Homo sapiens: one gene and its partner. Each later gene encodes a partner of the first gene's protein in a complex. Each region holds a gene or a part of one and is shown in the gene's direction. Other genes may lie near its edges.

Evidence for each region. Proteins that work in one complex are often made in the same cells at the same time.
Region 2: the proteins of CTBP1 (region 1) and RAI2 are in contact, whole or in part, in a cryo-EM structure (PDB 8ARI), measured with the Homo sapiens proteins. Residues at the interface, in NP_001319.1 of Homo sapiens: Arg36, Cys38, Met42, Val51, Ala52, Phe53, Cys54, Asp55, Gln57, Gln60, Glu61, His63, Val66; in NP_001166210.2 of Homo sapiens: Glu315, Ala316, Leu317, Asp318, Leu319, Ser320, Met321, Lys322, Trp326.

What each region holds. Positions count from the first base shown.
Region 1 is NC_000004.12:1,225,128-1,232,175, reverse strand, and holds part of CTBP1 (C-terminal-binding protein 1), read left to right. Parts: exon of another isoform or gene 1-1,068; intron 1,069-3,832; coding exon 3,833-3,977; intron 3,978-6,609; coding exon 6,610-6,816; intron 6,817-7,048. UniProt on the Homo sapiens protein: Corepressor targeting diverse transcription regulators such as GLIS2 or BCL6. Has dehydrogenase activity. Involved in controlling the equilibrium between tubular and stacked structures in the Golgi complex.
Region 2 is NC_000023.11:17,799,501-17,802,298, reverse strand, and holds the end of RAI2 (retinoic acid-induced protein 2), read left to right. Parts: intron 1-264; 5' UTR 265-288; coding exon 289-1,881; 3' UTR 1,882-2,250; downstream 2,251-2,798.

The sequences.
Region 1 (7,048 bases):
GCGTATCCAGAGGCCAAGGCCAGAGGATCGCTTCAGCCTAGGAGGTCAAGGCTGCAGCGAGTCATGATTACACCACTGCAGTCCAGCGAGGTCCTGTCTGTAAAATAAGTAAATGAAAAAGTTTATATATTCAAAGACTCCTCCCAATCAGTAGAAACAGAAAAATCCCGACAGAAAATGGATGAGGGCGGTGGCGTTTGGTACAGACAGAGCGGTGTATGAGAACCGGGGTGCGCCTCCTGGGTTCTCACAGGTGCAGCAGGCACCGCCGGTAACCCCTGGCCTGGCCTGCGCTGAGCCCTGCACCAGCCGTGCTGAGGGAGCCTGGGCCTGGCCCTTCATGTGGGATAGAAACGGCCGTGCCGGTCTCGATGGTGCTTTGGCAGTTTCTCTGGAAATCTGAAACCTGCGGTCTTCAGCCCAGCCCCACCCTGGGCCTGCATGTGGCTGCGTGTCGTAGAGAAACATCTGCCCTGATGGTGACCTGATGTGAGCAGCAGTTTCACAGAGTAAGCCACCCCTGTGCACGAGGTCTGGAAAGGTAAGTGCGACGTCGAGTCCTGAGCACAGAAGCAGGTGGCAGAACTGCATGGCAGGAGGTGGGCTTGGCGGGCCCCTTCCTGACCCCCAAGAGCCAGCTGCCACCAGGAGCGTCCTGGGGTCTGTTTCCAGCCCGGTGGCAGCCGAGCTTCCTGGGCACCCAGCTTTCCCCAGCCTGCTCTGAGCACTGGAGTTGAGGGCACTGAGCAGAGTGGGGCTGAGCCCCTGGCGGTGGAGGGGACACATCAGTGGGTGTTGGCTTGAGGTGGTTTCTGGGAGGCTGCTGGGCCCCGATCTAAAGGGACACACCTGGCTGCACCCACCTCCTGCAGACTTTCTCCGTGGGAGACCAATGCAACAGGCGGGGTGGAGCAGCCACGTGGCAGCCACGAGGGGGAAAGGAAGGTAGACCCTGAGGCTGAGCCGCTGTGGCACCCTGGCCTGTGGACCTGTGGATGACGTGGCCGCCACGTGGTAAAGCGCACATGCTAGCAGCTGTGGCCCTGCAGCTGAGCACAGGCCAACCTGGTACGTGGTGGAGGTCGGGGCATGGGGTGCCCCAGCCATGTTCAGATTCCTGTAGTGAGAATGCTTTCACCTAATACTATGTTGTTAAACCTGTATTCAGTAGGGAAAAGGGCAAGGACCTGAAAAAAGTGTATTAAGAATCGTGCACAGGCAAGTGATGAAAGCCTCGTCGGGGAGGCAGCTTGCGCTTCACAGCTCAGCTGGGTGGGCGCGCCCGGAGCCCAAAGGAGGGCCCTTGGCCGGCGCACGCTTCGGCTTCTCCGAGCTTACCTAGATGAGATAGATTTTCATCACGGAAGAGCCGATGCAGGAAGCAACCTTAAGGCTGCGCGGATGAATATTCGTCATATTCACGTGAATCTGATCGCTGTCTCCTCCGAATGTGCGGGAGGTGACGTGCCGCGGTTCAGAATCGACTTTTCGAGGCCCGTGGCCAGTGCTCCGGGTGAAAGCAGGCTGTTGCCTGCGTACACACAAGCCTGTGTGGTGTGGGTCTGTCCAGCCTGTCCATGCCGAGCCTCTGCACACACACTGTGGAAGTGGCCCCTGCACATCCAGCTGCCCAGGCCAGCCCCCCGGGCTCACGTCTGGCACCAGGCCTGTCCCTGACCCCAGGGCCCATCTCCCACTGCGCCTCTGCCCACCGCTCGCATGCGCAGCCCCTCCTGCCCACAGTGGGTGCCGACGAAGCTTCATCTGCAGGTGACTCTCTCTTAGCTGCGGCTGCTTTGCCAGGCTGCCCGAAGCACCTCCTTGGTGTGTGGGCGCCCATCTCCAGTCCACGCAGCGCAGGGGTCTTCCTGGCCGCACCGCTCGCCTCCACCACAGCTGTGCACCAGTCGCCCACTGCTGGCCTCTGCCTGCCCATGCTGTCCTTGTGGCCTCACCCCGTCCACACTACGTCTGGTCAAGTGTGGTACACCAGGGTTCACCCCGTCCACACTGCATCTGGTGCACCAGGGGTCACCCCGTCCACACTGCGTCTGGTGCACCAGGGGTCTGCATGCATGCAGCCTCAAAGCCCTCCCAGGAGGCCCGGGGCAGCCATCAGCCCTGTCCATGAACTGATGAGTGTTACACACACCTGTTCCTCTGTGGTCCGGGTAGATGCCTCCCTGCCTCCTGCAGCCGAGGTGCTCCAACCTTCCCTTCTTCCTGGAGAATGCCCAGGCTAGCCCAGGGCTCCCCTCCCCTGCTGCCCAGCCTCTGCTGTGGCCCTGGTCTGTGTGGTCCTCCATGGTCCTCTCCTCTAGGTCCCCTGCGGTGGGCAGGAGGGAAGGGAGGCTGTGCCAGCCTCAAAGGGAATCATCTGTTCTGGCTAAGCTGGAGGTCCGGGCACTGTAGGAGAAGGGGTTGCAGCTGGGTGGTGAGCGTCTTCCTGGGGGCTGCCCTCACCCTGCCCACGTATGCCTGCCCAACACCAGCTGCTCTGCCCAGGACCCAGGCAGGGTCAGCTCCCACAGGACGCCCTGCGGTCCAGCAACCCAGGCACTGCCGCCCGGGATCCACAGGCTCCATGCTCGGCAGGAAGGGAGGGAAAGACGCCACCTAGGCCCCGGCAACCTCTGTGCTGAGCCTGCGCCATTGATCCGTCAGGAGTACCTGGGGCCCCGCTGGACAGGTGGTGGGTGGGAGTCATGTCCACATGGGAGGCTCACTGGTGTCTCCGGGGACTCGGACATGCCCATGTGGACGAGGCCTGCATGTCCTGGTGTCCTCAGCCACGGCTGTTCGCACAGAGCATCTCTGCACCCGTGGGTGGGCGTTGTCATGCACGGGAGTGTGGGATGGACGTGTGCGGGTGGATGTGTTTGGGTGTGGGTGGATGCGCAGGTGGTGCACACACATCCCCACCCTGTGCCCAGTGCTGCACCTGGTTCTTCGGCCTAGGGCACTTCCTCCACCTGTGTGCCTCTGCACCCCACACTGCCCCTGCCCTCCCTGGGCTGGGGGTAACTGGGAGCCCTTGGCAGGGTGGGGTTGGCCGTGACCACAGCGATGCCATGTACTGGCTGAGTGGAGGCGCCAGGGTTGGGCTGCTGTGCTGTGTGCCAGGTCTTTGTTCGCGGGAGCTGTTCCGGTCTAAGAGTTGTCATGGACACTGAAATTAAAAACGTGACTGTTGTGAACACTGCTCAGACCCAAGCCTCGCCAGCCAGGGGCAGCATTTCTGGGCAGGTTCTTGGGCGACACGGGGGCAGTGCATGCTCCTGTGGATGTATCCTTACGGCTGGGTGGCGTCTGCCTGCCTCCGCCGACGTGCTTGTGTGCCGCGGGGACTTACCACTTTCTACCTGCATCCCCGGGCCTGCAGGTCTCAGGTTCCCTGGCCACCCCACCCAGCTGCACCTGCTCAGTGTCCTTCCTGGGTGTGGCCGCACCCCCCCTCCTGTGTCCTCGCCAGGCGGGACCCCGTTTCTTCCACAAGGCTGAGCAGAGTCTCGGTGGGGCGCACGCTCAAAAGGAGACATCTCAGCCACCACAGTGGGGAGCGGGCAACTCTGACCAGTGCCGGCCTGCAGCCTACATGCGGCTGAGGAGGCTGCGGTGGGAATTGCTGGGACTCAGGACGCCTGGGCAGAGGTTGAGGGGCCGCGCGTGGCGGGGAAGCCTTCATGTAGCCTCTCCCAGTGTCCGGGCTGGTGCTTGGGGAACAAGCCTGAGGGCCACAGGCTAATTTCCCAGCCGGGGCAGCCCCACCCCCGAAGGCCAAGCCCGAGGGTCTTCAGGTTCCGGGCTGAGCCTGTGTGCTTTCTCGCTGCAGGTCCTGAACGAGGCTGTGGGGGCCCTGATGTACCACACCATCACTCTCACCAGGGAGGACCTGGAGAAGTTCAAAGCCCTCCGCATCATCGTCCGGATTGGCAGTGGTTTTGACAACATCGACATCAAGTCGGCCGGGGATTTAGGTAGGCCGGCTCCGAGTTCTCTCCTGTGCCCATTCATGCAAGCTCCGTCCCGTCTTGCTTCGTCCATGGAGGCTTCACTGCCACACTGAGGACCCCGTTGCACATTGCCTGGTGTGGCTGGCGGTGGTTCGTGGTCCCGTCTGGGGCCGGCATGAGGTTGCAGCCATTCAGTTCCTCACAGAGCCTCATCTCAGGGCACTTCCTCTCTTTTGGGCAGCAGGAAATCCAGCTGTGGCTTCACACAGGTCTGCATGCATGTCTGGCTGGTGCCCCTTGCTTGGGTACTGGGACCCTGGGGGTGAGGGCAGGGCCGTCAGTGTATGGCTGTAATAGGGCTCATAGGTCTCTGTCCCGAGACACAGCGGGAACAGCAGCGTGTTGCAACCCAGTACGTGTGCACTCAGCACACAGAACACACACGTCTGCACCTGTGCACTCAGCACATGGATCACGCACACTCAGCACACAGAACACACACGGAACACGCACATCTGCATCCGTGCATGTGCACTCAGCACATGGAACACGCACACTCATCTGCACCCATGCACATGCAGTTAGCACACGGATCTTGCACACTCATCTGCACCCGTGCACATGCACTCAGCACACGGATCACGCACACTCAGCACACAGAACACGCACATCTGCAGCCATGCATGTGCACTCAGCACATGGAACACGCACACTCATCTGCACCCGTGCACATGCACTCAGCACACGGATCCTGCACACTCATCTGCACCCGTGCACACGCACTCAGCACACGGATCACGCACACTCAGCACACAGAACACACACAGAACACGCACATCTGCAGCCGTGCATGTGCACTCAGCACATGGAACACACACACTCATCTGCACCCGTGCACATGCACTCAGCACACGGATCACGCACACTCATCTGCACCTGTGCACACGCACTCAGCACATGGATCACATGCTCATCACACAGAACACATGCACCTCTGCTTGTGCACTCAGCATATGGAACACTCATGGAACACGCACGTCTGCACCCGTGCACCTACACGCACATGGAACATGCACATGTGTCTGCATCCATGTACAGACACTCATTAGAACAAACTTGGGGCGGTGCTTGGCCGTCCTGCTTGGAGCGCACTTTCTGTTTTCTGCCAGGCTCGGTCTGTTTTTTCTCCTCCTCTCGATGCTGGTAACAGGCGAGGTTGTACCCTGCCCTTGCCCACAGTTGGCCAGCGCCTCACGGTTTTGCTTCCCTTTTCCTAGGATACAGTTTATGGCATTGCAAAGTTGGAACCGTCTGTGTTCCTGCGGGGGACGCAGGTGGTGTCGGAAGCCATGCCTCCATCTGGGGGTCTCCTGCACTGGCTTCAGCTGCTTCCGCCGGCGCCCATGGGCCAAACCTGTGTGCCAGCCTCCTCCCGCCTTTGTCTCTGTGGTGGCGTCCCAGGAAGGGCCGGCTGCGGTGTCGGGTGCAGGCCTGGGTGTGTGGTGTCGGGTGCATGCCTGGTGCTTTTTGAGGGGTCCCTGCTGTTTACCATCTCTGTTACCCGTGGAGTTTCCCAGGCCTGGGCTCTGTTCTTCAGCCAGGGATGGTCTGGGGCACCCCTGGGATCTGGCCCACCCTCAGGAGGTCTTTGTTCCAATCTCGTGTGGCGCCTGGCTTGGCTCTCCCTCAGTCTCCCTTGTTTAACATTTTTACGTCCAAGTGAGTTGTGTCTAGGGGCTATGCAGCCCCTGCCTGCGCCGCCCCACATCAGGCCCTCTCCCGGCCCCCGGGACCCCTTGCGGAACCACACGGTCCTGTCCAGCTTCCGGGCCTATGAATGCAGCCCTGTCCTGGCCTCCTGCCCCCTCCTCCTCCCCAGGGAGACGGATGGCCAGTCGGACACAGGAATGCAATCATCCGGATGGGGTGGGAAGTGCCGTGCAGGGGCGGCCCTGGCCAGGGACAAGCCAGGGATGAGGGTAAATAGGCTCAGGGAGGGGCACTGGCTGGGGAAGGGCCTGTCTCTGGGGACAAGGCCGGGAGCGGGGAGTAGGGGTCACACATGGGCGTGCCTGGCCACTCGGGAGAAATGGGATGGACTTGCTTTCCAGGAATGGCTCCAGCTTCAGTGTTACCGACTGCAGGGGTGGGGCATGGAGGGCGGAAGGGGCTTCGGGGCCCGGCTGGGCCTGGGGGAGGCCTGAGGACATGTGCGGATGTCCACGTAGGGGTGTGCAGGCGGGGCCGGCACCCAGATTCTGACCTGGCCACAGCCTCCCAGCAGGGTACCCCCGAGAGGAATCGGGGTGGCGAGGTGACGCGGGGAGACACGTGCTTGTCTCTTCCTGGGCTGCCAGCGCTGAGTCGGGAGGGGTCAGGGCAGCGTCTCACACCCCAGCCCTACCACACACCGAGCAGTTGCCGTGTGTGTGCTGCCACGTGAACCTAAAGTGGAGGTGGGGCTCCTGGAGTTGCTCTGTTGCGCCCGACCTGTGAGCAACGTGTTCATCTCGTGGCCTCCCGGGGTGGCCTTGGGGACACGGCCTTTGGCTTCTTCCTTGGGAAGCTTCAAACCCGCTCCAGTCACGGCGGCCCCGGTGTCCTCCCGGAGGCTGGGCCCGGCCCGGGGGTGACCGCCGTGTCCTTGTCCCCACAGGCATTGCCGTCTGCAACGTGCCCGCGGCGTCTGTGGAGGAGACGGCCGACTCGACGCTGTGCCACATCCTGAACCTGTACCGGCGGGCCACCTGGCTGCACCAGGCGCTGCGGGAGGGCACACGAGTCCAGAGCGTCGAGCAGATCCGCGAGGTGGCGTCCGGCGCTGCCAGGATCCGCGGGGAGACCTTGGGCATCATCGGACTTGGTGCGTCGGCCGCAGCTCCACGCCTGTGTCCCTCCCTGTGTCTGGCGCTGCCGCTCTTCAGCTGTGCCCAGGAGGAGAGGCCCGGGGCGGGGTGGGGCTGCTGCAGGTGTCGGTCCCAACCCAGGACAGGACTGAGTGCGCACAGGCACCAGGGCCCGGGAGTCCCAGGCGTGTGCCCTACGTGCACGGACGTCACAGCACACGTGGGTCTCACACAGGCACACACAGATAA
Region 2 (2,798 bases), on another chromosome or scaffold:
ACCTCACTTGGCTATTTACTGATTACATCATCTGCATTTATAGCTTAATCATCTGTTAAATTGGGGTTCTCCACGCACACAGGATCATGTGGTTGTGTTTGTATATATTAGGAGATATCTATAACCTGAACATATACATAGAGAGATGGGTTATGCTCCCTGGTTAACTAAAACGTGGAAACTTTCTAAAGATGTGAGAGAGCTCTTAAGGCAATTATAAATAGTCTTTTAAGGAAGATTCATATTGTATGTTCTGTGTTGCAGGCCAAGTGGCATCAGAGCTGAGTGATGGACGACCTGCAGTCCCAGAACCTCTCCATGGACATGACTGACTCCCCTCCTGCCTTGGCTAATAACAGACTGGAGAATGGCATGGCTCAGCTGATCACCACCGAGGCCTGGAACATCAACTCCACTGACCTGGTAAAGAAGGCCCTGGTGACCGTGCCAGCCCCATCCATTCTGAACCCCCCTGCCGAGTCTCAGAGTGGCATGGCTCTGAAGGTGGCGGCCACTGTGTTGCAGCCCCTGTGCCTCGGGGAGAGCCCAGTGGTGATGCCCATTCACATGCAGGTGGAGGGAAGCTCCGCACCAGAGCTCAATCCGAATGGCAATGCCACCTACGTCATGACCACCCAGGGCCCCGTGCAACTGCCCGTGGTGCTGGAGCAGCACGTCTTTCAGCACCTCAACTCCCCTCTGGTCCTGCCGCAGGAGGCCCCATGCTCCTCCAGTACCATCCACAACAACCTCTTCCAGGGAGCGGAGGACCCCGAGGCCCAGCCCCAGCTCCTGGACCTGAGGATCCCCAGCCAGCCGCAGGAGCCCACTTTGCCATTTGAAGCTGTGCTCCAGAATTTGTTTCCCTCCCAGGGCACTCTCGGGCCCCCACCCTGTCAGCCTCCTCCTGGCTATGCCCCTGTGCCCCCACAGCCTTTTAGCTCCCCCTTGTCCCCCCTGGTCCCACCAGCCACCCTCTTGGTGCCGTATCCTGTAATCGTCCCCTTGCCTGTGCCAGTCCCTATTCCCATCCCCATCCCGATGCCTCAGAGTTCTGAATCCAAGTTCAGCTCCAGTTTCCCCAAGCCACCATCTTCCTTCGGCCTGCACCCCTTTAAAGGCACCCAGACCCCTCTGGAAAAAGATGAACTGAAGCCCTTTGACATCCTCCAGCCTAAGGAGTACTTCCAGCTCAGCCGCCACACGGTCATTAAGATGGGAAGTGAGAACGAGGCCCTGGATCTCTCCATGAAGTCAGTGCCCTGGCTCAAGGCTGGTGAAGTCAGTCCCCCAATCTTCCAGGAAGATGCAGCCCTAGACCTGTCAGTGGCAGCCCACCGGAAATCCGAGCCTCCCCCTGAGACACTGTATGACAGTGGTGCATCAGTGGACAGCTCAGGTCACACAGTGATGGAGAAACTTCCCAGTGGCATGGAAATTTCTTTTGCCCCTGCCACGTCCCATGAGGCCCCAGCCATGATGGATAGTCACATCAGCAGCAGTGATGCTGCTACCGAGATGCTCAGCCAGCCCAACCACCCCAGCGGCGAAGTCAAGGCTGAAAATAACATTGAGATGGTGGGCGAGTCCCAGGCGGCCAAGGTCATTGTCTCTGTCGAAGATGCTGTGCCTACCATATTCTGTGGCAAGATCAAAGGCCTCTCAGGGGTGTCCACCAAAAACTTCTCCTTCAAAAGAGAAGACTCCGTGCTTCAGGGCTATGACATCAACAGCCAAGGGGAAGAGTCCATGGGAAATGCAGAGCCCCTTAGGAAACCCATCAAAAACCGGAGCATAAAGTTAAAGAAAGTGAACTCCCAGGAAATACACATGCTCCCAATCAAAAAACAACGGCTGGCCACCTTTTTTCCAAGAAAGTAAATAACGGCTTTTTAAAATTTGTATGATTATAATATGGGGAAAGGTGCATTGGTTTTATAAAAAGGCATTTAAAACAAATTATCTTTGTTAATTATTTTGGGGAGTAGTTGGGAAATGGAAAGGTGAATTGGCTCTAGAGGCCCTGTATGCTAGTATCATTTTCTTTTTTAATTTTTGACTTTTCACAAATGAGTAAATAAGAGCAACCTATTTTTCAAGCAGATTGCACATTTTTTGCAGCTTTAATGGAATATTGGGTGAATTAGAGGGGTAAAAAAAGCTATTTTCATTGCCACAAAGTGCTTTGATGATGTAATACCTAATAAAGGGTAGGATGAATATTTCACAATAAATGTTTGTTTGCACTAATTGGTTGCAGTATTTCATCATTTATAAAATTTACATTCCTTAACTGGCATAATTTGGCCAAAACTCTTGCTTGTGAAAAGCTGTAAGTTATCTGTGATTAGAGACCTAAGCTTTTCAGGCATATTGGAAAATATTGCCCTATGCCCCAGTAAAAGGAGGGTTAGGAATATGGATGACCTTGAGCAAGTCATTTCCCACTTTGGCCTTGGGTTTTTTAAATTTCATTTGTAAAATAAATAAATAAATAAGTGGCAAAGAAAAGGGACAGCGAGGTGAGTTTCAAGTGCCTGAGGCTCCTTCCAGTTCATATAGTTCTTGGGTGTGTAGAATTCTGTGCCTGGACCTTCCATAGTGTAAGACAAGACAAATGTCTCACAACAAAAAAGTAACCTGCTTCCTTCCCACCAACCAAAAGTTTAGTTGGAAATGCCCTTCTTTTCAAGGGCAGTAAGAGCATTGTTCTCAATGATTGAAAATCTTGCAAGTCAGAAGTAGTGGCGCAGGCTAGTGGATCAAGAGATGGCTCATACTTTTTCCCAGCCTTGGAT